Linked DNA regions of Homo sapiens: region 1 is linked to region 2. Evidence: fine-mapped expression QTL. A gene starts in region 2. The other region holds a variant in brackets. All regions are shown on one strand. Distances are between the middles of the regions. Region 1 overlaps PBRM1 (polybromo 1). Region 2 holds the start of PBRM1 (polybromo 1).

Region 1 (2,923 bases), 140 kb after region 2:
ACCAGTTTCATAATTGGTTGTATATGTAGACTTGGAGTTTTATCTTTTTACTTGTTGCCATGGAACTGAAACCATTAGAGGTTTTTGTCTTGGCTTGGGGTTTTTGTTTTCTTGGTTTTGGGTTTTTTTATATATATATATAAAAGAACAAAATGAAAAAAAACACACACACACAAGAGTTTACAGATTAGTTTAAATTGATAATGAAATGTGAAGTTTGTCCTAGTTTACATCTTAGAGAGGGGAGTATACTTGTGTTTGTTTCATGTGCCTGAATATCTTAAGCCACTTTCTGCAAAAGCTGTTTCTTACAGATGAAGTGCTTTCTTTGAAAGGTGGTTATTTAGGTTTTAGATGTTTAATAGACACAGCACATTTGCTCTATTAACTCAGAGGCTCACTACAGAAATATGTAATCAGTGCTGTGCATCTGTCTGCAGCTAATGTACCTCCTGGACACCAGGAGGGGAAAAAGCACTTTTTCAATTGTGCTGAGTTAGACATCTGTGAGTTAGACTATGGTGTCAGTGATTTTTGCAGAACACGTGCACAACCCTGAGGTATGTTTAATCTAGGCAGGTACGTTTAAGGATATTTTGATCTATTTATAATGAATTCACAATTTATGCCTATAAATTTCAGATGATTTAAAATTTTAAACCTGTTACATTGAAAAACATTGAAGTTCGTCTTGAAGAAAGCATTAAGGTATGCATGGAGGTGATTTATTTTTAAACATAACACCTAACCTAACATGGGTAAGAGAGTATGGAACTAGATATGAGCTGTATAAGAAGCATAATTGTGAACAAGTAGATTGATTGCCTTCATATACAAGTATGTTTTAGTATTCCTTATTTCCTTATTATCAGATGTATTTTTTCTTTTAAGTTTCAATGTTGTTATAATTCTCAACCAGAAATTTAATACTTTCTAAAATATTTTTTAAATTTAGCTTGTGCTTTTGAATTACAGGAGAAGGGAATCATAATTTAATAAAACGCTTACTAGAAAGACCATTACAGATCCCAAACACTTGGGTTTGGTGACCCTGTCTTTCTTATATGACCCTACAATAAACATTTGAAGGCAGCATAGGATGGCAGACAGTAGGAACATTGTTTCACTTGGCGGCATGTTTTTGAAACCTGCTTTATAGTAACTGGGTGATTGCCATTGTGGTAGAGCTTCCACTGCTGTTTATAATCTGAGAGAGTTAATCTCAGAGGATGCTTTTTTCCTTTTAATCTGCTATGAATCAGTACCCAGATGTTTAATTACTGTACTTATTAAATCATGAGGGCAAAAGAGTGTAGAATGGAAAAAAGTCTCTTGTATCTAGATACTTTAAATATGGGAGGCCCTTTAACTTAATTGCCTTTAGTCAACCACTGGATTTGAATTTGCATCAAGTATTTTAAATAATATTGAATTTAAAAAAATGTATTGCAGTAGTGTGTCAGTACCTTATTGTTAAAGTGAGTCAGATAAATCTTCAATTCCTGGCTATTTGGGCAATTGAATCATCATGGACTGTATAATGCAATCAGATTATTTTGTTTCTAGACATCCTTGAATTACACCAAAGAACATGAAATTTAGTTGTGGTTAAATTATTTATTTATTTCATGCATTCATTTTATTTCCCTTAAGGTCTGGATGAGAC[T/C]TCTTTGGGGAGCCTCTAAAAAAATTTTTCACTGGGGGCCACGTGGGTCATTAGAAGCCAGAGCTCTCCTCCAGGCTCCTTCCCAGTGCCTAGAGGTGCTATAGGAAACATAGATCCAGCCAGGGGCTTCCCTAAAGCAGTGCAGCACCGGCCCAGGGCATCACTAGACAGGCCCTAATTAAGTTTTTTTTAAAAAGCCTGTGTATTTATTTTAGAATCATGTTTTTCTGTATATTAACTTGGGGGATATCGTTAATATTTAGGATATAAGATTTGAGGTCAGCCATCTTCAAAAAAGAAAAAAAAATTGACTCAAGAAAGTACAAGTAAACTATACACCTTTTTTTCATAAGTTTTAGGAACTGTAGTAATGTGGCTTAGAAAGTATAATGGCCTAAATGTTTTCAAAATGTAAGTTCCTGTGGAGAAGAATTGTTTATATTGCAAACGGGGGGACTGAGGGGAACCTGTAGGTTTAAAACAGTATGTTTGTCAGCCAACTGATTTAAAAGGCCTTTAACTGTTTTGGTTGTTGTTTTTTTTTTAAGCCACTCTCCCCTTCCTATGAGGAAGAATTGAGAGGGGCACCTATTTCTGTAAAATCCCCAAATTGGTGTTGATGATTTTGAGCTTGAATGTTTTCATACCTGATTAAAACTTGGTTTATTCTAATTTCTGTATCATATCATCTGAGGTTTACGTGGTAACTAGTCTTATAACATGTATGTATCTTTTTTTTGTTGTTCATCTAAAGCTTTTTAATCCAAATAAATACAGAGTTTGCAAAGTGATTTGGATTAACCAGGTTTGGTTGTTCTGTTAAAGTGGTGTCAGATGTTTCAAGCAGATTTAACTCCTGCAAGCCCTGATTTCATGCTGACAAGGTTGTATGTGACTGCCAATTTAAGAGAACAAAGCTCCACAGATGGAGATGAAAGTCAGTGTCCAGACCTCTGGTTCAGGGCTCGGGCTGCATTAACACAGAGCCAAATGTAGTCAGACTGCAGACTGAAGTGCCCCACGCCACGCCTCAGGCTGGCAGTCAAGGAATTCCTACATGTCCTCAGCATGGGCAGAAATGCAGGTTGAAATTAAAATTGGAGAATTACTGAGGGCGGAAAGTGAGGAAAGCATGTAAGCAGTATAGCCCACTTCAAATAGCTTGTCTGTGGCCAGAAGAAACAGGTGGCCCAGGTGTCTTTAACATCTTTATAAACTCTTAAAACATGACCATGCTTTTAATAGAAAGTGTTGGTA
Region 2 (2,923 bases):
ACAAAGTAATGCATATGTAAGTATAAAACAGCAAGAAATTGTAACTAGAAGGCTCTCTATGCAGAGATTAACATGCTGAACAAATTTAGAGACTTATCACCAAATCACTGCACTTTCTCACAGCTGCACTCCTGATGCCTAAGAGCTTGTGCCCATGGTCAGTCTATCCAATGCCATTTCCCAAAACCAAATCACATTAACCCAGACTTTCCCGCAAAGGAACAGGGCAAAATCAGTTTAGCAATGTGTTTGGTACAGCTCTCTCAAGCACTACACTTACCTTTTTTTGGATTTTATACCGCTTATGGCAGGTCATGCGTTTACTTGCTTTCTTTAACTCTACAAAGAAACACATCACAAATCTGTTAACCCAAATGATTAGTTCTGGGTTAACGCACTATGGAGTTATATCCTTTTCTTGTGTTATTGGCTACCAAACCTAACGTTAAGTCTAATGCGAAATGCCTAATGCAAACATACGTGCTACTTTCAAATCCCAGAGAATTAAATTCAGTAGATCCAGAATGGAGTCAAAATTCCCTGCACTTACCCTCACAATATTAGAATGGGATCATACACAACAGCGTATGAGACACAAAACGACAACCACTTCGTGTCAAACAGCACGAATCATAAGGCAGGAGAGGAACACTGAGTCTGGGAGGCGATTCTCAGCTCTCACCTGGGCCAGTCTGCACGTGGCCACGGAAAGAAAATATTGGGCCTCAAACCTGGCTCAGACGCTGCTTCCTTACGAAAATCTAGCCTAGTCTTCCCCACCCTCTGCCCGGCTTCGTTCCGCAGAATGAGCCCGCGCGGTTAACATGATCGCCGTAGGGACTTCCAACTCTCGGTTCTACCAGGAAATAGGGCCAAGGCCTACGCGTAGGCTCCCACCCCCATACCAGCAGAGACAAAGCCGTAGCCGTAGAAGAGCGTCGTGGTGGCTGCAGCAACTTCCAGACGTGGGTCCCTCCACGCCCGCCTCCCGACCCCACTTACTAGGCCTTTTCATATTGGCTGTAGAAGGAAGCACAAACACATCAACCTGCCTCCGCTGGCGCCACGTGTGAACTGAAGCCACTGACGAGCGTCACGCACTTACGCTGCCGCCGTAAAGTGCGTCACCGCCTCTCTGCGTGCGCGGGCACGCAGTGTCGCGCGGAGCAGGGATCGCTTGGCGGCCGCGGGACTGGTTTTGCGGCGGCACCGGGAGGGGTAAGGGAGGTGAGGGCGGCGGGTGCCGAAGCGACGGCAGCGGCCGCGGCCGGAGGAGCAATAGCAGCAGCCGTGGCGGCCACGGGGCGGGGCGCGGCGGTCGGTGACCGCGGCCGGGGCTGCAGGCGGCGGAGCGGCTGGGTAAGGCCGGGCCCAGGGCGGGTGGGGCCGCTCCCCCTTGGTCAGCTGCCGGGCCTTTGTGTGGGCCCGGGCGGGCGGGAGCCGCGGCGGAAGCCCCGCCCCGGCCGTGGGGACGCGCGGGTCGGGCCGGGCGCGCGGGGTTGGGCGGGGCGCGGCGGCTGGCCTCCGGATGGGCCCAGTAGCCTTGTCGCACCTGCCGGCAGGGACAAAGGCGCACTACGGGTCGGAAACTCCCCGCGCTCCTCTTTCCCGCTCGTCGCGGGGCAGCTTCAAAGCTGTCAACGTTTCCCTCAGTCCCCAATACCAGTGACAGGTCGGGAAAGTCCTTCATTTCCTCCGTTGCTCAGGGCCTCTTTTTTTTGTTGTGGTTTCTTGACGGTTCGACACAAACTCTTAGTGATTTTCTTTCCGTATTTTTTCCGGGTATTTTAATCAATGGGACTTGTATTTATAGTAGAGGCCAGATATTTCAGCTTCTCAACACCACAAAGAATCCGGGATTTTGGGAACTGTGTATATTTCTTGGTTTGGGGAAGCACAGTTTTGTTATTATAATAAGTTTTAATTTAAAGGGGAAGAAAGAGTTGCAAAAATATAGAAAAAGCCCTGAAAAATAAGTACACGGTATAGTGGATATAGAAATTCTTACAATAATTATAGAAGCGTATGTTGGGGTGAATTGTTTTAATTAACTTACTTTCCAACACAGGATTCTTGACAAATAATTTTAGGTATTATTTTTTTCTCCATTTGGCTATGTGCTTTTCCCCAAAAAGTGCAAATTGGACTCATGCACATAAAAGAGTAGCATAATTTTTGCTTTATTACTTACAGGTCGCCCATATTTGATTTTGAGCTCCAAAATGGAAGATTGGAAAATATGTTTTGAAGAGGTGTTTCAAATTAAAACAATAAAGAGTTTATGTGTGGATGAATGGAAGGGCCTTGACCGCTTTCTTTGGCTTTGGGAATGTACAAAATACCTCAAATGTTAATATCCTACCAAAATTCCCAAGATAAGTAAATTGTGGTGTATCTATATGATAGATTACTATCAAGTCATCAAACATCATGAGGAAGAATGTTGACTTGGAAGAACCTTCACTAAAACACAGGCTGTAGAATAATATATGTGGTTTGTTAACATTTTGGTAAAAAATAATAGGTAACTAAGGCATAAATACCAAAAACCGAATGACAACGTTAAGAGTGGTTTTTTTCTTGGAAGTAGGTTTATAGGTGTTTTTTTTCCTTTGAGTCCTGTTTTCCAAGATTTTGTTTTAAACATGTATTGTATTGCTAAATATTACTAGAAATATAGGAGAGGGCTAAAGTTCATAAACGGTCGAAATACACTGTTTGTCTATAGTAAGTCGATATTCTCCCAGTTGCACATTATTAAGTATTCTTAACTGTCCACTATAAATTATTGATTGTTAGACTTTTGAACTTGTAACTGTAATCAAGGCCATTTTAAAACTTGGCATTGAACTCTGGAATCTGTCTTTCCTCTTCATGGAAAGACAAAATTGCTGAAGGGATGCTTACAGGCATTTTTTTTTTT

The links.
Region 1: its variant is fine-mapped to the expression of PBRM1 in fibroblasts (GTEx, PIP 0.99).

What each region holds. Positions count from the first base shown.
Region 1 is chr3:52,544,901-52,547,823 of GRCh38, reverse strand. PBRM1 (polybromo 1) reads left to right here. Exons shown (of 32, transcript NM_001405607.1): 32 at 1-2,457. Among named protein-coding and RNA genes, the nearest start is that of UQCC5, 9.8 kb to the right of the region's middle. The variant T/C (reference allele first, on the strand shown) is at 1,667.
Region 2 is chr3:52,684,185-52,687,107 of GRCh38, reverse strand. It overlaps PBRM1 (polybromo 1), which reads left to right and starts at 1,195. Exons shown (of 32, transcript NM_001405607.1): 1 at 1,195-1,359. GNL3 (G protein nucleolar 3) reads right to left here and starts at 1,076. Exons shown (of 15, transcript NM_014366.5): 1 at 1,003-1,076; 2 at 281-339. The coding sequence starts at 1,015. RefSeq lists enhancers at 849-918, 913-1,601 and silencers at 1,239-1,388, 1,459-1,608.